3 separate regions of the Homo sapiens genome follow, and all the other regions are linked to region 3. Evidence: fine-mapped expression QTL. A gene starts in region 3. Each other region holds a variant in brackets. All regions are shown on one strand. Distances are between the middles of the regions. Region 1 overlaps SLC35D1 (solute carrier family 35 member D1). Region 2 overlaps MIER1 (MIER1 transcriptional regulator). Region 3 holds the start of MIER1 (MIER1 transcriptional regulator).

Region 1 (8,188 bases), 100 kb before region 3:
TGCGGCAGTACAGATGGAAAGACTATAGGTTATGGAGCTGAACAGGTACTTACTAGCTAGATAATTTTGGAAAAGTTACTGAATGTTTCTGAGCCTGGTACATAATAGGCACTTAATAAGCAGTAGTTTTTATTTTTTTTTAATGCTGTCTTTATGGCAGGGAGAATGGGCTCCTTTGCACTGTAGGGACTGCCAGGGTTCTGTTTTTCCTACAGCTGTACTTTCAAATGGCTGCTGCTGCTTTTGTTGCAGCCAAAGATCTATTCCTGTGGCGAAGCAGAGGAATGCAACAGCGTGCTTGTGCCATAGACTGACTTTCTCCAGAGACAGGCCAAATACTTAGAGAAATAAAAAAAAAGTCCCATGAGAATTATTTTTCTGTTTTTGATTTTTATCTGAATGGAACCATATCCATGAGATTTATTTTAATGTCCTGCAGATATCATTATTATGTCCCCAAAGGAGACTGTGCAGTATATATTTGGGGCATTTTTCTGAATCAAATGTAACATTCAGTGTAGACAGCCTTGGGGCTTAGCATATGTAGACTCATGTTTACCGTATATAACCTGTGTGACCTAAAGTAAGTTACCCGTCTTCTGGGTATAAGAAGATCTGGCCTTTCTGTCCCACAGGTTGTCATGGCAATCAAATGACATGATACATGCAGAAGCACTTGGTAAACCATAAGGCACTCCAAAAATGTATGGCAGCACTTTTTTAATCATTTGCTGCTTGATTATCAGGAAGCCTGATTAAACCATCTTTAGCATTGTGCCTCAAATCCTGCCTGGGGCCTGGCACATGGGACTTAATAGATGTCAGAATTGTACACCGAAAGCAGAGGAGATATTTAGAGCTAGAGGAGAGAAGAAACTTAGGTTTATGAGAGGTTTATTTGAGGTCTTTGCCAAATAATTCTGATTACTGAACCACTGATTAGGTCACTGATAAAAAAAAAAATTAAAAGTAATGATTATATATAGTAGCTGACATCATTTATTGAGCCAGATTCCCTCCATGTCAGTGATTGTATCCATATATATATTTTTTGTAATTCTGATAACAACCCTGTAGATGAGGCCTTATTATTCCTCTTTTTACATATGTAGAAACTAAGGTTCAGAGAATTATCATTGTCCCTTACAACAACTTATTCTGTATTCTTAATGACTTTGGGATAAAAGAATAGCTTAGCCAGGAAAGGAAGATAATTTAGAGCTGGAGGAAAGGTTTTAGGGCTGAGATTTCTTTTATGTGTTTTAGCTTGGGTAAAATAAACTCTCTACTTTTCAAGCTGATCTAATACTCCTGTCACAACTGGAAGAAGCCTTAATACCCATGCAGTTCTCCTTTACAGAAGCTCAGTCTAGCATAATGAAGCAGTGGTGAGGTGGTACAAGACACCAGGCTTCTGAATCCTGGTCCACCTACTTTTCTAGGTACAATGGCTTTTCTTGCAGGGTATGCGTAACCTTTCCATTGCCTAATTGATGGCTTACTGGGTTATGCCTTGTCTGTTCAAAGAAAAAAAAAAAAAACTTAGTGCAAAGCTAATGAGTTACATGCAGTTCAAATGACCTTTAATTATTAGAAGAAAAGTTAAAATTATATATTTTGTTAACTATACCTTAATAAAGCTTGGGGCGTGGGGCGCAGGAAACAGGGCAAACTGATAGTGTAAGAAACAGTTAAAATGTGAACAATTAAAATGTAAACATACTTGAGATTCTGGTCCAGTTTCAGATAAATGTGAAATAAAACTTTTTTTAAAAACAAATTATGTAGATTTAACATTCAACTTAAATACAGTTAGTAGCATGTACAAGCAGGTGTGTGGGTGTATTAAAAAGCAAAGTTCAGAGGGGGTCAGGGATTAAAACAAAAGCAAAGTTCACCTCATCTGTGTGTAGAAAATGATGCTGGGCCACAGATCATGGATGTTTAATCTACTGCCACTAGTATTTGTGCTTAGCACTTCTAAGTGCATGGAACTCTGCAGAAATGACATGTGACACATTTCCTGCTCCCAAGGAACTTACAGTCTTGCTAGCAGAAGCTGGTCTCCTGAGTCGTAGGCCAGTTTATTGTGCGTTACTGATTTTTCATCAGAGAGGAGGTTGTGTTTACAGGTATGAAGGAGCGTAGCATGAGATTGTATGCATGAGTTCTCATGTCTTCCATTCATCCAGTAAACAGTTATTAAACACCTACTATTTTCTGATCACTTTGTTAAATACCATGGATACAGAGATAAATCATCAAGGTATTTGCAATGTCTGTCTGGAGAGATAGTCATGTACATAAAGATGTCCATATATGTACACATACTTAGTAAGGAACCTGATAAAAGTAGCATTTAGTCTTCTCTTGAGTTTGGCAGGAAAGATACTAATGTGCAACTTAGGTTTTTGTGAAAGCTTCCTAGTGGAAGCATCATTTGGTACAGGTTTATAATTCAAATCAGGAACTGAATGTGGTCTTTCATTTCCTAGCCATGATGGAATAACACGGACAGGGTTTACCTTCCTACATTAAGGTACTAGAAAATCAAACATTTATCAAACAACATTTTTCAGTCTTTGGATGACAGGCTGTGAAGGATTGTTAAGAAAGGATGAGAAGAGAAAAGAAAGCTATAACAAAAGACTCAATTGGAACTTTTAGGGATGAAAAATATCTGAATTGAAAAATAAAGTGGAAGGAATGAAACAGCAGATTAGGAGAAAAGATCAGTGAATTAAAGACAGTAATGGAAACTGTCCAAGATGAAGCGTATAGAGGAAAAAAGATTGTAAAGCAAATGAACACAATATTAGTGACCTGTGGGGCAATATCAAGAAGTCTATGAAGGGTGGGAGTAGAAATTTTTTTTCTGCAAATTTGATGAAAACTTTAAAGGCACACACACAAGGAGCTCAGTAAACACAGAATGTAAAGGAAACTGTACCATAAAGAGGAACATTTCATAATGATAAAATGGGTTAATTCCTCAAAAGGATATAATGGTCCTAAGTGTATATATTCTTGATGAGAGAGCTCCAAAATATATGAAGTAAAAACTGATAGAACAGAAAGGAGAAATAGACCAACCCACAATTACAATTGGGATCTTAATATTTTTAACTCAGTAATTGATAAAACAGTGAAACTGGAAGTCAGTAAAGTATAGAAGACTTGGATAATACTGTCAACAAGCTTGATCTACTTGACATTAAAGAACAATCCACTCAACAACAGCAGCGTACACATTCTTTTCAAGTGCACATTGGGTATATACCAAGATAAACTATATTCTGGGCCATAAAATGAGTCTTAATAGTTTAAAAGAATTGAAACCATACAAAGTATATTCCCTGACCAGAACAATATTAAGGTAGAAATTAATGGCATAAAGATATTTGGAAAATCCCCAAATATTTGCAAATTAGCACACCTCTAAATAATTCATAGACAAAGAAAAATCACAAAGAAAATCAGAAAATATTTTGAACAATGAAAATCAAAGCACAACATAGTGGCTGGGTGTGGTGGCTCACTCCTGCAATCCCAGCATTTTGAGAGGCTGAGATAGGTGGATCACTTGAGGTCAGGAGTTTGAGACCAACCTGGTCAACATGGCAAAACCTCGTGTCTACTAAAAATACAAAAATTAGCCAGGCATGGTGGCTCACACCTGTAATCCTAGCTACGTGGGATACTGAAGCACGAGAATCACTTGAATCCAGGAGGCAGAGATTGCAGTGAGCCAAGATAGCACCTCTGCACTCCAGCCTCGGCAACAGACCCTGGTTGTTTTTGTGTCTGTCTCAAAAAACAAAAAAACTACAACATAGGAAAATTTCTGGAATGCAGCCAAAACAGTATATAGAGGGAAACCCATAAAATTAATTATATAAATTAAATCCCTAAATGCTTATTTTAGAAAAGAAGAAAGATCTAAAATGAGTGATCTAAGCCTCTGTCTTAAGAAAGTAGCTGGGATGAGGTGGCTCATGCCTGTAATTCCAATGCTTTGGGAGCCTGAGGTAGGAAGATTACTTGAGGTCAGGAGTTCACGGCCAGCCTGGGCAATATAGTGAGACCTGTCTTTTAAGAAGGAAGAATAAAAAAAGGAAACTAGAAAATTAAATCCAAAATAAACATAAGAAATGTAAGATTGTAAGATAAGAATAGAAATCAATGCAATGAAAACCAATGAAACTAAAAGCTAAGATTTTTTTTAAAAAAGATTAATAAAATTGCTAATTCATAGCCAATTAATCAGGCCAAAAAGTGAGTTTACATAAATTATCAATATCAGAAATTAAAGAAGGACCTCATTACAGAGCAGGTATATTTTAAAAGAATAGTAAGAGAATATTATGAACAATATTATGCCAATAAACTTGACAACTGAGACAAAATAGATTCTTGGAAAAGACAAACTATGTACCAAAGCTCACTCAAGAAGAAATAGGTAATGTATGAATAACTCTACTCTGTTAAGTAATTGATATGGTTTTGCTGTGTCCCCACCCAAATCTCATCTTGAATTGTAGTTCCCATATTCCCCATGTGTCGTGGGAGGGACCAGGTGGAGATAATTGAATCATGGGGGGCAGTTTCCTCATCTTGTTCTTGTGATAGTGAGTTCTTACGAGATCTGATGATTTTATAAGGGTCTTCCCCCTTTGCTGGGCACTCATTCTTGCCACCCTGTGAAGAGGTGCCTTCTGCCATGATTGTAAGTTTCCTGAGGCCTCCCCAGCCATGCGGAGCTGTGAGTCAATTAAACCTCTTTCTTTTATAAATTA[C/T]CCAGTCTCAGGTATTCCTTTATAGCAGCATGAGAAGAGACTAATACAGTAATTAAATAGGTCTGTTTAATTGAAATTAATCATAAGCCTTAATTAATAATAGGGCTATTATAGCCCTATTTATGTTAAAGAAATTGAATTTGTAGTTAAAAACTTTCCTCAAAATAAAATTTCAGGCCCTGATTGCTTCACTGGAGAATTTGACAAAAAATTTAAGGAAGAAATAATAATTCTACATAAATTCTTCCAGAAAATAGAAGATAGAACACTTCCTTGTTGATTTTATATGGCTAGGATTACCTTCTGCCAAAATCTGACAAAAACATTACAAGGGGGGAGAAAGTACAGTACAAAAAAATCCAGCAATATATTAAAAGGGCAGTATATCATGACCATATTGTGTTTATCTCAGGAATTAAGGTTAATTTAACATTTGAAAATCGATCAGTGCAGTTTACCATATTAACAAGAATATAGTAGAACTATCCTAAATAGATGCAGAAAACCTATTTGACAAAAGGTGACACCCACTCATGAGTGTAAAATTCTCAATAAACTAGGAATAGAAGGGAACTTTCTCAGCATAAGAAAGGACATCTACCAAAGAATCTATTGCTGACATATTTAATGGTGAAAGAAAGACTGAATACTTTTTCACTAAGATTTGAGAACAAGGCGAGGATGTCTGTACTCATATAGTGTTCTATTCAGTGTTATGTTGAAGAACTCCATCTGTATAATATAGATTTGAAAGGAAGAAGCAAAACTGTGTGTATTAAAAACATGATGATATATGTAGAAAATCTTAAAGAATCTAGAAAAAAGTGATTGGAACTAATTAGCAAGTTTGTACAGTACAAGGTCAATATGCAAAAATTAACTGTAGCTCCACAAAACAGCAGTGAACACTTGGAAGCTAAGTAAAAAATACCACTTATAATAGCTTCAGATTATAAAGTACTTGGGGGATAAATTTAACAAAATATGTTACCTGTATGCTGAAAACTACAAAACACTAGTGAGATAAATTTTAAAAGACCTAAATAAGTGATTTTTATGTTTATTAATTAGATGGTTTGATATAATTTGTCAGTTCTTAGCAAATTCATCTATAGATTCAACACCACCCCAACTCTATGGGAAGATTTTTGTAGATATTGACAAGCAGATTTTTAAATTTATGTGGAATTGCAAAGGACTTAGTATAGTCAAATCAGTTTTCAAAAATAACAGCTTTAGAGGATTTACCCTACTTGATTTCAACACTTCTTATAAAGCTTCAGTAATCAAGACACTGTGATATTGGATTAAGAGTAGACAGACCAGTGAAACAGAACAGAGAATCTAGAAATAGAAATATACCATGTGGGCAATCATTTTTGTCAAAGGTGTGAAAATAGATCAATGAGGAAAAGATAATGTCTTCAGCAAATGTTGGTAGAACAATTTGACATCTGTATGCAAAATAGTGAACCTTGACTGTGACCTTGTGGAATATACAAACATTAATCAGGAAAGTGTTATAGGTTAAATTGTGTCCCTCCCCTTCCAGATTCATATATTGAAGTCCTAATCCTTAGTACCTCACAATAAATCTTATTTTGAAATGTGATGATTGAGGTGTAATTAGTTAGGATCAGGTCATACGGGAGTAGGGTGGGTCACTAATTCAATATGACTGGTGTTCTTACTAAGAAGGGAAATCAAGGGCCAGCAGGGTGGCTCACACCTATAATCCTAGTGCTTTGGGAGGCCGTGGTGGAAGGATCACTTGAGGCCAGAAGTTTGAGACCAACCTGGGCAACAAAGCAAGACCCTGTCTCTACAAAAGAACTTAAAAAATATTAGCCAGATATGGTGGTGCACACCTATAGTCTTAGCTGTTCAGGAGGCTGAGGTGGAAGGATTATTTAAGTTTCGGAGTTCAAGGATGCTGTGACCCATGATCACGCCACTGTACTCCAGACTGGTTGACAAAGCAAGACCTTGCTTAAAAAAAAGGTTGGGGGGCGGGGTGGGAAATTAGGACACAGGTATGCACACAGGGAGAACACCATGTGAACATGAAGTTAGACATCAGGGTGATACCTCTACAAGCTAAAAAAATACCAAAGATTGCCAACAAACCACTAGAAGCTAGGGGAGAGGCAAGAAAAAGATTGTGTCTCAGTTCTTAGAAGGAGCCAATCCTGTAGACACTTTCATCTTGGAGTTCTACCCTCCAGAACTGTGAGACAACAAATTTCTGCCATTTAAGCTACTCAGTTTTGTGGTGCTTTGTTATGGCAGCTCTAGCAAACTAATGTTAAAAGGTTCATAGACCTAACTGTAAAAGCTAAAACCATAAAACTAGAAGAAAAGATAGGAGAAGATCTTTGACTTTTGGTTACACCCAGGTTTCATTAAAAAGTTATAAGCAAGAATTATAAAAGACAATATTGATGTTAGACTACATCAACATTAACATTTTTTGCTCTTCAAAAGACACTATTAAGAAAATGCAAGGTGAGGCTGGGCATGGTGGCTCACGACTGTAATCCCAGCACTTTGGGAGGCTGAGGCGGGCGGATCACTTGAGGTCTGGAGTTCAGGACCAGCCTGGCCAACATGGCGAAACCCCATCTCTACTAAAAAATACAAAAATTAGCTGGGTGTGGTGGCATGCACCTGTAATCCCAGCTAGTTGGAAGGCTGAGGCAGGAGAATCACTTGAACCCAGGAGACGGAGGTTGCAGTGAGCCGAGTTCGTGCCACTGCACTCCAGCCTGGGCGACATAGTGAGACTCTGTCTTAAAAAAAAAAAAAAGAAAATGGAAGGTGAGTCACAGACTGGGAAAAAATATTTGTATTTTATGTATGTGTGTGTATAGCATATGTGTGATTAAGGACTTTTATCTAGAATATATTTTTAAAAACTCGTGCAGCTCAGTAATAAGACAAATAATGTGAATAAAAATTTGGCAAAAGAGGCCGGGCACCTCTTTTGTACCTCTGTAATCCCAGCACTTTGGGAAGCTAGGGCGGGCGGATCACTTGAAGTCAGGAGTTCGTGACCAGCCTGGCTAACATGGTGAAACCCTGTCTCTACTAAAAATACAAAAATTAGCCGGGTGTGGTGGCATGTGCCTGTAATCCCAGCTACCCGGGAGGCGGAGGAAGGAGAATCGCTTGAACCCAGGAGGCAGAGGTTGTAGTGAGCTGAGATCACACCACTACACTCCAGCCTGCGCGACAGGGTGAGACTCTGTCTCAAAAAAAAAAAAAAAAATGGCAAAAGATTTAGACAGACACTTCACCAAAGAAGAAATGCTAATGTCAAAGATTAAAAGATACTCAATATTGATAGTCTTTAGGGAAATGCAAATTAAAATGAGAAAATATCACTTAACCAC
Region 2 (8,181 bases), 54 kb before region 3:
CTCATGTGTTATCATTTTTTACTTTCTGCTCTGGAAGTTTAATAGAAACCCAAACGGAATTTCCCAAGTCACTGCAAGAAAGTGTCCCTTATTATGAAGAAAGAGAAATGTTTCTCTGGTTGCTTACCATTTTGATTAGCAGTGCTTACAGTGCCATCTTCTTTCTCAGACTGGCTGTTACTACTGTTTGATGCAGTTGGGGGAGGGGATGGTGCTCGACTAGATGCAGCACTTTCACTTTCGTCTAGAAGACGATCCATGTAATCCCTTAAAATTAATAAAACAATTTTTATATTAAAAAGAGCTGAAAATTAAAAATTAGTTGAGGTTAAATTCAGAAGGCTTTCTTAACAAATATATCCTAATATTCACTTAACATTCATTCCAGTGCTTCATCTATCATACCAGGATCTGAATATTTAAATGAAAAGCTCCTTTTGGTTACATGTTTATAGGAAAAATGCATAACGGCTTTAAAGTAACAAATTTTAGAGACCCATAGGAAATTTTAAAGCTTGTAAAGTTGTAGGCAGGTGCTCAGAGTGGCCCAACTAGAACTGGAAGATCTCTTAACTGAAGTGATAGGGGTGATGTCTAGTAAAAGTACAAAAGAATTTCTGTACAAACATAGATTGAATTTTAAAGCTCCTAAAGGCGATACCTAAAAGACAAATTTGAGCCTAACAAAAAGGACTGATTACCTCCTAAAACCTTCCTGGATATTTTTGGTATTATATTTCTGCCAGATCTGAGCTATAAGATGCTAACTAAATTCCTGGGATTATCTGCTGGTTTTATCCTGTCACTTTCTCATTGTATGTGAGCTCATTTCTTCTCTAAATCATTCCTGAACTACGTAACTGTGGTTAAGTGACATTGGTGAGCAGATCTGGGATAGAGATTTGTCTCTCTCAGGTTTAGTGTATCACCTACAAAATGTAGATAAATCATATGTCTAACACACATGGTTATTGTATTATATATGTACATAAAAATGTTTCATAATCCAAAAAGTGCTACTAAACCACTAGAATAAAAGTCAGCCAACTATAGCCTGTGGGCTGGCCATCTGTTTTTTGTAAATAAAGTATTATTGGAACCCAGCCACACACCTTTGTTTACATAGTGTCTATGACTGCTTTCCTGCAACAACTGCACAACTGAGTAGTGTGATTAAGTCCTTTCTTACTACAGAGCATAAAATATTTATTCTCTACCTGTTACAGAAAAAGTTTGCTGATACTAGATACTGCACTAGAATTCCCCAAGGTCAGGAATTTTTAGTCTACTTTGTTTATACCTGCACCACTGGTACCTAAGTTGTGCAAGGCACAGAACAGAAAGAAACTCAATAAAATTCTAATTGTGTTATTTATCTTAAAATTCCTTCAGCATAAGTATGATAGAAATATTAAGACAAATCTCTTAGAATTTTGTGAGCAGGGTAAATAAGAAGGAAACAGTGGAAGCTCTGAGGAATTTTCTGAAAGTCTGTGTTAATAGTCTATAATATGCTATTAATTGTAGTTATCTCAACCTATATGGTCATCACTGTCTCCTAGGTTATAGGGATTTAACAAATATAGGGATGTGATACCTGACTTCAAGAAACTTCTAATAGTCTGAGGTATAAAACTAATACATATCTCAGAAATGTATATGACCATGACCTATGCAATTTACATTCTATGCCTTATTTTCCTCATCTATAAATGAAGGGAATTCAATTAGATGGTCTTGAATACCTATAAATCTATATAGAATTAAATTAGATGGTCTTGAAGACTTCTTCAGCTTTATGCTACTCATCATAATTATAGAAAAATTACATAACAAATTTGAAGCACACAGAAATAAGTGTGGTGAGTCCCAAAGGGACTTCAGGTGCTAAGGCTAACAGAAGACACATGATGAGGAATTGTTGGAAATAAATACGTTATAGTGGGAATGGATAATATGAAGGAAGTTAAAAGCCAAAGCAAGGCCGGGTGTGGTGGCTCACGCCTGTCATCCCAGCACTTTGGGAGGCCGAGGCAGGTGGATCACCTGAGGTTGGGAGTTTGAGACCAGCCTGACCAACATGGAGAAACCCTGTCTCTACTAAAAATACAAAATTAGCCGGGTGTGGTGGCGCATGCCTGTAATCCCAGCTACTCGGGAGGCGGCGGCAGTAGAATCACTTCAACCCGGGCGGTGGAGGTTGCAGTGAGCCGAGATTGCGCCACTGTACTCCAGCAGCCTGGGCAACAGGTTGAGACTCCGTCTTTAAAAAAAAAAAAAAAGCCAAGGCAAAGGAAACAAGAGTTGATATCAAAATTATTTTTAATTTCTGGATATAGTCATAATTCTGTGAAAGGATAGTAATTATTATTATCATTGTTTCCTAAAGATTAATAGCATCCAGAATATTCAGGAAAGGGCAGAATCAGACAAACCATCCAGAAAGTTGAAGCAGCATTCAGGTAATCAAAGTTATGCTGAGTTAATGTTTAGTTTTTGGAAAAATTATTTGGAAAGCTGAGTATTCTACAATGAAATCTCCAATAAGGTTCCCAATTCTTCCAGGTAGTAAATAGGGACAATGTGTAGCAGAATCTTTCAAAGGCTGTTTGTAGGCAGAAAAGGGGAAAATGTGTTTCATCCTGGTGAACAAATGACTTTCAGGATAATGTGCTCTGAATTATGGATTTTGACCTAAAAAGAAGGATGAGAAAATTCACTCAAATTTCTCTCTAAACACATTAGCTTAATGTTTTATGAAGTCACTTAAAGTGCAGCTATTAACAGAAAGAGATGGTAATGGAAGCAAACCAGAAAAATTTATCCCCATCTGGAAAGAAATGTAGTTTGGTCACTGCTTCTTACAGAAGACATAACACAGCTAAAAGGGAAGAGTCTCAGTAAAAAAGTATGATTCTTTCAGTTAAATAAACTTTATAAAAAAAAAACAACCCAGTGGGGCTACAACTGAAGCCTACAAAACCATGGTATTCCTGCCTAAGGGAAAAAACACATTAGTTCACGTCATACCATTATACCAGGTGACCACTATTAAGATATTGTTTATTTTTAACTGTGGCCACTCTACCTAAAGAATATTTAACCTTAAGAGTCATTAAAGTTACAGATAAAAGTATCTTCAAAAAGTTTTCAGAAGCTATGGGGAGATCAATAGAGAAATTAGAACATTTGGTGGCACATCCCTACCTAACCTGTTGATCTTGACATCACAGAGGAC[C/A]AACTAAGCCAGCCCACACTTTGGTGATGCTTTCTGAAAGAGAAAACTGGATGAACCATGGGTCTGACCCAGCATGGCCATTCTTATGTTGTTACTGCTGATGATTACAGACTGAATGTAGCTCACGTGTGAACATTATTTCTGAAATGGTTGAAAAAAATAAAAGATGTTACTATTGCTTTTCCCTATATAATACCTTGAAAATCATGACTATTTTAAGATATATCTGCAGACTAGATGCTGTATCTAATTCTATATTATTATGCTTGAATACTACCAATGGAAAAAAAATTAACTATAAATTTAACATTAAGCAATTAGATAAAATTTGCAATACTGCTATTTATGAAATTCCACTTTAGCAATCACCAGCTTTGAATAATGGGGGATGATGTACACACTCCATTGTCCCATGATTTCCAAGGGTGAATCATACCCATTTATTCTCTTTCAGATTGTTTTACTGTGGGCTTTAGAGCATTTGACCTTCTAAGGAAGTGACCAGCAGAGATACCTACCTATAAATGAACTTGATCAAGAAACAGTGCAGTTTAGGAGTCTGAAGAGCAAGATCAAATAAACATACAAGCACATCTTTTTTTTTTTTTTTTGGAGATGGAGTTTCGCTCTGTTGCCCAGGCTGGAGTGCAGTGGTTTGATCTCGGCTCACTGCAACCTCCGCCTCCTGGGTTCAAGCAATTCTTCTGCCTCAGTCTCCCGAGTAGCTGAGACTATAGGCGTGCACCACCACATCAGCTAATTTTTGTATTTTTAGTAGATATGGGGTTTCACCATGTTTGTCAGGCTGGTCTCAAACTCCTGACCTTGTGATCCACCCGCCTCAGCCTCCCAAAGTGCTGGGATTACAGGAGTGAGCCACCGCACCTGGCCCAAGCACATCTTTCGAAGGTAATTATTTGGTCAGCTTTAAGAACATCTTTACTGGAGTACATTGACAAAGTCAATTTTTTTTTATTTTTATTTTTTATTTTGCATTATTTTTTTATTCTGTAAACATTAGGGAATAATTAAGGATAGCACTGTAAAGTTAATTCCATCATAACAATTAATCACCATTTTAAAGCAATTCATGAAAGACAAGGGGTTCAATACTCTTTTCTGTTTAAGTAACAAATTGCCAGTGGTAGTGGAATGTTTCACTCCAAAGCTAGACTGAATGAGGTGTAGACAATAAATTCTCTTAACATGGGAATAAATTAGGCATATCAGACATTTTACATAAAGAATGGATACAACAACCCATATCTGTGTCAATGGGACTACACTAGAGTTACATTACTAATTCTTAAATATTACTTGTTAGAGGAAAGATTCAGGAAAGCTAGGAAAAGGAAAGTCACCATATACATGTTTTTTTTCCTCTATAAAAAAACTGTATGCTGGGTACAGTGGCTCACTCCTGTAATCCCAGCACTTTAGGAGGCTGAGGCAGGTGGATCATTTGAGGTCAGGAGTTCAAGACCAGCCTGGTCAACACAGTGAAACCCCGTCTCTAATAAAAATTCAAAAATTAGCCAGGCGTCATGGCAGGCACCTGTAATCCCAGCTACTCGGGAGGCTGAGGCAGGACAATCGCTTGAAGCCGGGAGACGGAGGCTGCAGGGAGCTGAGATTGCACCACTGCATTCCAGCCTGGGCAACAGATTTGAGACTACATCTCAAAAAAAAAAAAAGAAGATTAAAACTGTATGTGCTTATACTGAATGGAACTGAATTTAAGAAAAACATGCTTTCACAGCTGTTCTGATCCATTTCTTCTCAACAGTGTATTAAAAATATACATTCTAAATCTTGCTTTAATGATATGCTTGTCTCATACATAATATGAACTGTAGTTTACAATATTTCATAAGACACTGAAAAGTCTAAATGCCTTATTTATGAAGATATAATAGATGGTAAAGTTTAATGTGTATTATAAAAGCAAGATTTTATCACTCTCGGCCTTCTGGTTAAGATCAAGTATATAAAAGCAAGATTATCAAAATAATAATTAACTCAAGAAAAATCTAGAAAAGCTTAGCAAAAATGTATATATAGCTCTTAAGGAAAAAATTAACTCACGTTACACCAGGATGAAGATTATATTTCTTCTTTCCAAATCGTGTTTGCTGAGCAAAGAAATCATAACGTTCAGATTTTTTCCACATGTAATAGAATGCTACACATTCACCAACTGACCTTGTTCGGACCTGTAAGAAACAAATGCTTGCTTTTAAGAATCTCCTTTTTAACAAAGTTACTTCATGATAAACATCTGAAGTTTGAAAATAAATTTGGCTAGTCCTTAACTGAAATATAATCCTATATATAACATACAACAGTGTAGCAGCTATGTTGAAAGCTATTCTTTCTAAACATCTATTAAGAGAAATAATATATTGGCAACAGGTCTTCAGATATACAGCACTGTGCTTTTTAAAATGCTACCATCATCCTAATTTACTAGAAAAATATATTCCTGTATTAAAAATGCTTGGAAGTTGGCCGGGCACGGTGGCTCACGCCTGTAATCCCAGCACTTTGGGAGGCCAAGGGGGGTGGATCACGAGGTCAGGAGTTCAAGACCAGCCTGGCCAAGATGGTGAAACCCCATCTCTACTAAAAATACAAAAATTAGCCGGGCATGGTGGCAGGTGCCTGTAATCCCAGCTACTCGGGAGGCTGAGGCAGGAGAATCACTTGAACCCCAGCAGGGGGTGGGGGTGGGGGCAGAGGCTGCATTAAGCTGAGATCACACCACTGCACTCCCACCTGGGTGACAGAATGAGACTCAGTCTCACACACACACACACAAAAAAAAGGCCTGGAAGTGGCATTCATGTTAAAATAAATGTTATAAACAGTTTGCTAATACTTTTACTCACAGAGTACGGGTACCTAGGGAGCGTATCTTTAAATTCCCTTTTGAAAGATTCTCTTACTAGTCCCAACAGCAACCCAGACTCAGTTAATTTACTCTCTAGAAAGTCTGGGAAGATGCCACAGTGAGTTAAAAGTATCATAATAATGCTAATGCTTTGTTTACTAAGTTACTCTTGCGGCTTACTGTGCTGTACCTATTTGTGCAACTGAATGGCTCCCCTCACATAATGTTAAATGCCTACGGAATTAAATGATGCTGACAGAATTCCTTTTTGTTACTTAGCCGGGAGAACTGGTGGTAGGGTTGATGTATATATATAAAATACTGAGGATTTAGGGCTGATGTATATAAATAAAATACTGATAACTTTTTTCCTTTCTTTTTCTTTTTTTTTTGAGATAGTGTCATGCTCTGTTGCCCAGGCTGGAGTACAGTGGCACCAAACCGCTAACTGCAGCCTTGCCCTCCCAGGCTCAAGCAATCCTCCTGCCTCAGCACCCTCAATAACTGGGACCACAATTGCATGCCACCAAACTCAGGTAATTTTTCTATTTTTTGTAGAGATGGGGTTTTGCCATGTTGCCTAGGCTGTTCTTGAACTCCCAGGCTCAAGCAATCTGCATGCTTCAACCTCCCAAAGTACTGAGATAACAGGCATGAGCCACTGCACCGGCAATACTGACCATTTAAAAGGAAATCCAGTGTCTGTATGTGTTCTGGATGCAATATACTTCTTTATCCCATAAATTTCTGCTCTTGAAGTAAATATTCTGTAGCACTGATTGCACCTAAAGGACAAATGTTGATGATACCCTCCCTTACCCAACATATATTTTGCTTTCTTCCCGTTTGCACTGTACAGCTCTGATCCATATTGCTCTGAGACTGACAGCAATCAGGACTTTAAAAAAAATCATCCTCTCAAGCTGTTTTTTGTCTCCTCTAGGATCTTATTTCTAGATAGATTCGAACTAAGTCAACTGTACTTTACTGAAAGCAAAAAGATAAAGTCATTTTGGGGCATGCAAAGTTAAGATTATGAAAAATCTTCAACAAAAGCCCTCAAAATAGAACTTATGATTAAGATCTGAACTTTAATTCCAGACATAAAAACAAACTCGATATTCTCACTAGAGTACTCGTCTCCCTTTTAAAGAATTACTGTCCTCTTTTTGTGCACTAGAGTAATTTAGTGTATTATGTAGAGGTCAGCTGACTTCTACCTTGTAACATTTAAATGCCACTGTCCCAAATATTTATGAGAAATCAAGGTTATACTTTTAATACTTATGTTACTTGGCTCTAAGTTTCAAGTCACCTATAATTTCTTAACTCCTTTAAAAAAATCATATTGGTCAGGGTTGTTGCTGCTGCTTGTTACATAAGCTATCATTCCAGGGGTCCCTTCCTTAGGTAATTCAGCATGGTTTGGTTAAGAGTGTTTTAATTCAAGCAGAAGTGTTAAAAAACAACAACAACAACAACAAAAAAAAAACCTCATCCAAAAATGTTGTCCCTTTCAACCATGAAACAACGAACTTTTTTCTTTTTTAATCAAAAACATACACGGCCAGTCACATAATGCACTCCTTTTCTTGAATGTTAACTATATTTGAGGTTATCAGATGATATGAACACAACATTAGGGGTATACATTTTTGAAACTAATTACATTGTCTTCTAAGTTATCCTAAATGCTAAAACTAAACATTTCTCTATTAGTGTTATCTGCGGTAAACTGCCAACATTCAACAAAATAATTAAGAATGAACTAATTGGGAGTGGGGCTCTTCACTGCCCAGTTCCCACTTAAAAAAAAAATAATAAAAATAAGAATAAACTAGTTAATGCACGACAAAATTTAAGAAATGAACCCACAGGATTTGTAAATATTTTATTAATAACAAAAAATATTAAATATGTGTCAAAAAAATCAACTGGATACAATCCAATCACATCCAAATGTATAAAAAGAGAGCTGTGGCAGAAGACTATTCAGAGCCTCAGACATAAGCCCAGGTACTTTCAACAAGGTCCTGGACAAGCTACGACACAA
Region 3 (8,159 bases):
GATAAAGAGCAGGGGATCATAGTCTATTAACCTACTGAATGAATCCTAAACTTGTCAGGAAAATGGAAGTCTGAAACATTTCTGAATGGGTATCTATCTTACTGTTAAATAACTCTTTAAGTTTATTAATATTGTGTATCAATATTACTAGTTTTAAATGGTATTATTATTATTGAGGGAAAAAAACTCTCTACATTTTTCCCCTTCCCCTTTTTATAAATGTGGATTCAGTGGGTTTTTTAGGTTCAGATATTATAAAAAAGAAACAGCTCTAATACTGCAATTCATAGGTAACACATTACCACTGAATTCAGTATCCTTCCACTATTATTTTATTTTAGTGATACACCTAACTGTAAAATTTTCAGGAGCCACCTTACGGAATGAAAAGTCTTTCTCAAAACGCTTACTTACCCTCTTCAGTATTAAATATATAAAAATTAACTATTCACTAGTTATAGAATTTTAGTGTTGGATGGGACCTTAGAGATCTTTTAGTCAATTCTCTACCCTGTCAAGATAGTAATCTCTCATCATGCTTCTACTACCAGGCTTTCTGCCTATGTTTAAACCCCTCCAGTGACTCACTATATCTCATAAAAAGGCTGCTCTTTTCAAAAAAAGTTCAAATGTTTAAAACATTCTTTCTTTTATTATGCCAGAATCTACCTCCTTGTTGTTTCCATCCATTACCCTTAGTTCTTCAGCACTTTGGATTAATTCAACAGATATCTTCTTTGTATCCAAATGCAAACAGTTAATATTTATACTTGGGTTAACAAAAAAAAATTTATTTTTAAAGCCTATTCATACTAGAAGAGTTGAAAATAGGACATGAGAGAGCTAAAGGCATAAGAAAATGCACCATTAATTGTGTCTGCTTAAAATTATTACACTTTGTTATTTATTAATGTGATATCCAAAACAGTAGTTCTGTTGGAATTGTGTATAAAATTTTTAAACTAAAAAAGTGTGCTGAATTCCAATTTTATGTGAGGTTTGTGATTAATGTCCCAAAACAAAAAACCACTATACAAAGCCTGAATAAATGCCTCTTCAGCTCCTATTCCCCACCTAAAAGCCTCCTTATTTTCAGGCAAAGTAACATTAATTTTTATGACATTAAGCTACTCAAAACTGCTATTATATTGATAAATCATTTGTAAGCAATTTACTGAATCTTCCATTCAAAAGTTATTGAACAATTCTATAGAGGCTATAAGGCGCACGCACACACAAACCCCTCAGTTATTATTATGCTTTTAACAAAAGCATTTAGGAGCACAATCTTACTTCAACCAGTACCTTAAACGAACCAATGAACAAACTTCTTTGGCAATTTACATATACCTAAGAAATATAACCTTTTATTCAGTACCAACACCTGATTCAAATACAAGTAACATATATATATATACTATATAAACCTATCTGTTATGCAATCCAAAAAGGTACCTCTCAAAATGCACCAAGAAAATACTGTACTTATAACAATTTAGACTCTGGGGTTAGCTGACTGAAATAGATTAATACAACACATCCAAAACTAAAAAATTCTATATCTAACAATTTTCAGCGTCCATGAGTCTCTTTTGAGATTAGTTTATAAACTATTTCCTGAAATTTTTATTTAAAAGCAACAGCCTACACCATGTCTTTATGATGTGGTGGTAAAATTTTATGGATAATTACTAATTTGGTTGAAAATACCTACATCTAAAAAACTTAGCCTATTACATTTGGAAGCCCCACATCTATAGTGACAATCAGCATCATCTTTCGTTAGTTTCATTTTTTGTTATTAATGCCACTCTAAAACACTTATATAGGCTTTTGGTTCTTCAAATAACAGTTTTGGATTTTCTTTTCATAATTTTTACAGTTTTATCCAGTGGCCCCATTTTATCAGAATATTACAAACTATGATTATGGTTTTTACATTGATGACATGTTATTTTTATCTCACCCAAATTCTGGAAATTTTTGGCCCATCAGTTCTCAAACACTGGAACATATAAGAAGAGTAATATAATCTTATATTACTTGAGGGAGTTTGGATTTTCCCTCCCTTAATCTCCAAGTGTACCCCTGCCTACCAGCATCACATCCGTCTTGTCTGCATTGAACCTCAACCAGTTGGTTCTTAACCACGTCCGAAACTCAGCCAGGCACTGGGAGAATCGAGCGACCACACCATCTGGATCAAAGGAAAGAGAGCCTCAGTAGCAAGGAGACAGAAACGATGATACAAGCTCACCATCCACCCTGTTTCGCATTTTTAAAAAGATGGTCGGGAATCAGGACAAGGATCCCATGACAATTTTAGAAAAACATTTAATGAGCCTTAAGTCATGCAATTTGTAACTAATGATAAAGGAATAAAAGCGACCCAATAAATAGGTCGCCTCATTCCACCCATAAGTGAAGAAGGTTCAGTCAACTCCGGGTCATCTTGGTGAAGCGGCCTCAATAGCCAAGTCAATCTTGTAATTACATAAGTTCTTCTGCAGAAATGCAGAATTCTAGCGTTGGAGGAAGCTTTAAATAGGGAAAACTGAAGCCCAGAGAGGGATAGTGACTCGCTCAAGGTTACACAGCATGCAGGGACCACAGATAGGCTCCAGGCCAGGGACCTAGCCACTACAAGCTGAAAGAACAAGAGTAAAGAGCGGCGGGCATCTGTCCCAAGGGATCCTCCCACGCGCTAGGAGGACCTCGTTTCCTTACAGTAATACCCTATTCGAGTCTCTCCTCCCTCCCTGACTCCATCCGAAAAGGGCAAGTTGGCCCAGGGCGCTGCTCACCATAAAGGCTGCAGTGCAAGCGAGAGCCTCCCGGGGATGGGACACAAGTGAGGGAAATACAGGAGAAAGAGGCGGAGCCACAGCAGGGTGGTCAGCTTAGCCCCACCCCGACTGGGATCAGGGACCGAAGCGAACGGGGCGAGGCGAACTCACTCCGCAGCGGATTCCCAGCGCGGCGCCACCACCGCGAAGGCAAAAAGGCGGCGCTGGGAGGCAGTCGATGGCCAGAGGGAGGAAGCTGCGCATGCGCCTTTGGCAGCCGGCGGAGAGCAAGCCAGGCGCGTTCTGCGGCAGCCCCTCCCCGGAAGTTAAGGGTCTTCCGGGCGGTACACTGCCGTGGGGGAGGGGAAGGAGAGAAAGGGGACTGAGGACACCTCAGGAGCCCCTCATCCCAAACTGGAATAGAAGGGGAGAGATGGCTTGTGGAGGCTGCACTTACAGCCGCTGCCGCTGCTGCCGCCGCCACCTTCGCTGCTGCCGCCACCGCCTGAAGAAGCCCCATCCATCCGCCTGCAGCCGGGAGACTCAGAGCCTGGGAGGGGCCTGAGGCCCGGGCCGCCCGCCTCCTTCTTCCAGTCGTCGTCCGGAGCTTCCTCCAGCTCCACCAACCCTCTGCCCTCCCCTCCGCCTCCGCCCTCCTCCTCGGCCTCGTGCCGCCAGCCAACCGCGCGGCCGCTTGTTGAGCCAGGGCTCCACCGTCGCCATGACGCCCGGCAAACATTCCGGAGCCTCGGCCCGAGCCGCTAACGGAGGAGCTTGGGGGTACAGGGACTTCAGAGGCGGCCAAAAAAAGGGGTGGTGCACCACTCCCCAGCTGGTCGCCACCATGCCAGTCTCTCCGGCAGGCAGTCACAAGCAGCAGAACTTCGGGTTGTAAGTTCCGGCGCTAAAAACCGTAGTCCATCCCCCTGGGACCCGGAGGGAGCCCTTCTATTAATAGATACCATTTCTGGATTTGGAAAGGGGCCCTACCCTAACTGGGTTCAGTCTGTAGACCTTGAAGCTCCTAGGCCACAATGTCTCCTTTATCGACCTACCGCAGTCTTTAAAAGAATCTCTACTGGGCTGGGCGCGGTGGCTCACACCTGTAATCCCGGCACTTTGGGAGGCCGAGTGGGGTGGATCACCTGAGGTCAGAAGTTAGCGTCCAGGCTGGCCAACATGGTGAAACCCCGTCTGTACTAAAAATACAAAAAGTTAGCCGGACGTGGTGGCACATGCCTGTAATCCCAGCTACTTGGGAGGCTGAGGCAGGAGAATCCCTTGAACCCGGAAGGCGGAGGTTGCAGTAAGCCGAGATCGTGCCGTTGCACTCGAGCCTGAGCAACAGAGCGAGACTCTGTCTAAAAAATAAGATAAAATAAATCTCTATTGCTGTGCTTGCTGTGTGAGAAAAGACCTGGTTTAGAACCATCGTTCTAGCACTTCTAGTTTGTTAAGGCCTGCAGTCTCTCAAGCTTGATGCTTTCATGCTGTGCCCAGACGTTCAAGAGCCTCAGCTTCTGTGAGCCACCAGGCCGAACATTGCTGTGCTCTGTAGTAGAGGTATTTTATTGTCGTCTCGTCAATACCATCTTACTTTAAAACTAATTCCTGCTTCCAACATTCTGTTGTTATGCAGCAGTTGAACAAGACTGTAGAAAAGCACACAGCTGTGTGGACTTGTCTTACTTTAAATGGTTCCTTAGCGCTGCCCGTAATGCTGCCCACTAAGTTCCCCCAAAATTCCCTAAGTAATTTGTTTTCTCTTCCCCTCTCCAATCTCCTCCACCTCAGCTAATCTTTCTTCAGCGGAACTTGTTGAGAGTTCTTGGGAGAGAACCTTGCATTCTCTCTTGAATATGGTACTCACGCTTTTGTCCATCCTACCACTCCATCAAAACAGCTTCTATGAAAGCCAGCAATAGCCATGCAACCAAATACAATGGCTGATCCACAGTTTCATTCTTTTTGAATGAAGCAGTGTCGGTCGGGTTTATCGCTTCTCGATCTTTGAAAAGCTTTATTTGGGTTCTGAGAAACCACTCTTCCTAGTTCTTGTCTTGGTTCATGGTTTCACCTTTCCCAGATCCTTTGCTGGTATCTGTTCCTCACTACCATAACTAAATACAGTCATGCATCGATGGTGATACCTTCTGAGAAATACCTTGTTAGCCAATTTCAGCATTTTGCAAATATCTTCTAGTGTACTTACACAAACGTAGATGTATGGGCTACTATACACCTAGGCTACAATTGTATAGTAGACTGTACACCTAAGCTATAGTAGGCTATACATCTAGGTTTGTGTAAGTACACTAAATGGTGTTTGCATAATGATGAAAATGCATTTGTTGCTTCTAGGCTACCAACCTGCATAGCATGTTACTGTACTGAATACTGTAGGCAATTGTAACACAATGCTAAGTATTTGTGTATGTAAACATAGAAAAGGTAATGTCTTGTGCTTGAATGTTGTGACAACTACAACGTTGTTAGACAATAGGAATTTTTCAGCTCTGCTACCAGATCACCATTGTATATGTGATTCATTGTTGATGATCCAGGACTGTATTGGTATTGCTGGGTTAGTCCATAAACCTCTTCACTCTGATGTCTTTAATATCACCTATAATGATGATTCACAAATGTTAATCTCTGGCTAAGACCTCTCCCAAGAAAACAGATTTTAAGAAAAAACACCTGCACTTATAAGTTAATAAACATCTCAAACCAAATATATAATATTTTCTGTCTTTTCTAATTAACTGCAATCTTTCTCATTTTAGTAAATGGCAAATTCCACTCTTTCACTTACTCAGGGGAAAAACCTTGGGATTACCCTTGACTTCTATCTTATACCTCACTCTATAAGCAAATTTTACCATTTCTACCTGCCAAATAAATCCAGACTACCACTCCCATGTAAATCACTGTGTTACATTGTGATACCCACCTAAATAGTCTCCTTGCCAACACCCTCCAGGTAGTAATCAATGTGGTTCTGCTCAAAACATTTCTCAAGTTTTTTCCATTTCACTCAGTAAAACTCTTTACAGGGCCCCACAGGATCTCACTATAGACTCTTCCTCTTGCCTAATTACATCCCACGTTGTCCCACAACACATCAGACACACTATATTCCCCCTTTGGAGCCTGTGCATATGCAGTTTTTTGGAATATTGTGCCCCCAGATAACCTCATGACTCACCTCCTTTAGGTAACTGTGTCAAAGAGTCCTTTACCACCCCATATAAAGTAATAATACTTCACCTTTGGAGCTCTTCAGTCCCTCACCTTTGCTTGAATTTTTCCATAAAATTTATTCCTGCCAGGCACAGTGGCTCATGCCTGTAATTCCACCACTTTATGAGGCTGAAGTGGGCAAATTGCTTGAGCTTGGGAGTTCACAACCAGTGGGCAAATTACTTGAGCTTGGGAGTCCACAACCAGCCTGGGCAACATGGCAAACCCCCATTTCTACAAAACATTGAGCCAGGCGTGGTGGCATGTGCCTGTAGTCCTAGCTACTTTGGAGGCTGAGGTGGGAAGATTACTTGAGACCGGGAAGGTGATGTTGTAGTGATCCGTGATCACTGCCATTGTACTCCAGCCTGGTCGACAGAGTGAGATTCCACCTCAAAAAAAAAAAAAAAAAAATTTCTACAAGTTTATTGTGTACCTGCTTATTCATCCATCTTCACCTAAGGATAGTACTCCAAAAAGGCAGAGATTTTTGTTTTGTTCACTACTGTATCCATTGCCTAGATTGAAGAAGGTGCTGAATAAATATTTGCTGAATGAATGAGTGTTTACTTCAGTAACATTGGTTACTGCTTATCTTGTATGGTTTTTGTTTTCACCTTAAGGTATAGAAATTTTAATGTAAAATTAAATTGAGTTTATTAAATTGAAAAATACAAAAACTGTCCAACTCTCATAGTATGATGTCTAAGAAAAATTCCTTTGGGAGTTTCTTAAATGTTGACAATTTCATAACATCTATTAAGGAAAGAATGGGGTGGGAGACGGGAAGTAGTATAACCTTCACTTTTTGCAGTAGCCATGTTACCTAATTAAAACGAAGTTTCACAGACAAGTTTACAACCTTTTGGTTTGGCCTAATTTGTTATTTCTCATCTTCCTTCTTTTAGGACTTAATCCTGACCTTGGAAAGGATCTCATGAAGCAAATATTTGTCAGTTTTCCACTTTCTCTTTTCCTGTGTTAGATTCTTGCCTTTAGCTTTACAATACTGGACAAGTCTCCCATTGCAATAAAAATAACTGCTGATTGTTCACCTCTTCATCCTATTTCTCTGTCCAGTGCCTTTATATTCCTTACATGTTCTTGTTTCCTTTTGATTCTTATTTAATGTTTTTATCTCTGCTTACATTACTCACCTGTTCTTGAATGTTATCCATTTTTTCCATTAGAACCCTTAGCATATTAATCACAATTATTTTAAATTCATAGTCTTACAGTTACAAAATATCTGTCATATCCAAGTGTGGTTCTGATACTTGCTTTGTCTCTTCACACTGTTTTTGTACCTTTTGATATGCCTTACAATTTTTTGTTGAAAGCTGAACATATTGTATAGATAATATGAACTGAGATTAAATAGGCTGATAGTGTGTTTTATGTTTGTGTGGCTAGGAATTAGGCTGTGTTTACTGTTTAGTTGTAAATGTGTAAGGCATCAGTTTCCTCTACTGTCCTTGTTTCTGTCTTTTACAGTTTCCCTAGGGACTCCTTAAATAGATTCAGCCTTGCAGTTCTTTCCATTGTAATCTAATTATTATACAGGAGCCCTGTAGATATGGTGGTGAAGCAGGATAGTGACTCCTTCACAGGTGGGAACTGGAGTGTGCAGGCGCTGGCAGGGGTGAACTCCACTCACTCGCTGCTCCACCCCTTGAGGGAGGTGGAGCACAGGTGAGTGGGTGCAGGAGCCAGGGTGAGTGCTTTTGGGCACCTTCAAGAGCAAACTACATACTCACTCCCCAACAGTATCTAGGGGAGGGTATCCACGATGCCCAAAACCCCAGAGGAGGTGTTATAGTGCCCTTTTAGCTTTGCCATCTACAGACAGCGTAAGTGTTAACAGCTCAGTGGAGGGTCAGCATGACAGCCTTTTGCACCCACACTCGTGGCACCTGAGTTCTTGTCCAGTGTCCAGGAGGAATGAGGTCGCATGAGAGTTGAAGCTGGTAAATGCAGGGGATTTTATTGTGTGAAAGTGGTTCTCAGTGGGAAGAGGAGCTGAAAAGGGGACAGAACGGGAAGGTAATCTTCCCCTGAAGTTCAGCCGTCCCCAGCCAGATTCCTCTTCAAAGCTACACCATCAAGCTGTCCCTCTGAAGTCAAGCCACT

What was found. PIP is the estimated chance that this variant, and not a neighbour inherited with it, causes the effect. A credible set is the group of variants that fine-mapping cannot tell apart.
Region 1: its variant is the best candidate, but not a certain one, in a credible set for the expression of MIER1 in fibroblasts (GTEx, PIP 0.72).
Region 2: its variant is the best candidate, but not a certain one, in a credible set for the expression of MIER1 in whole blood (INTERVAL, PIP 0.65).

The regions. Positions count from the first base shown.
Region 1 is chr1:67,023,363-67,031,550 of GRCh38, reverse strand. All of the region lies in intron 8 of SLC35D1 (solute carrier family 35 member D1), which reads left to right. Among named protein-coding and RNA genes, the nearest start is that of SLC35D1, 27 kb to the left of the region's middle. The variant C/T (reference allele first, on the strand shown) is at 4,797.
Region 2 is chr1:66,973,865-66,982,045 of GRCh38, reverse strand. It overlaps MIER1 (MIER1 transcriptional regulator), which reads right to left. Exons shown (of 14, transcript NM_001077700.3): 12 at 5,324-5,451; 13 at 128-267. It also overlaps a transcript of SLC35D1 not described here. Among named protein-coding and RNA genes, the nearest start is that of MIER1, 53 kb to the right of the region's middle. The variant C/A (reference allele first, on the strand shown) is at 3,239.
Region 3 is chr1:66,920,180-66,928,338 of GRCh38, reverse strand. It overlaps MIER1 (MIER1 transcriptional regulator), which reads right to left and starts at 3,349. Exons shown (of 14, transcript NM_001077700.3): 1 at 3,244-3,349; 2 at 2,097-2,197. The coding sequence starts at 3,310. DNAI4 (dynein axonemal intermediate chain 4) reads left to right here and starts at 3,483. Exons shown (of 17, transcript NM_024763.5): 1 at 3,483-3,677. The coding sequence starts at 3,508. RefSeq lists enhancers at 3,051-3,330, 3,621-3,780 and a silencer at 3,361-3,480.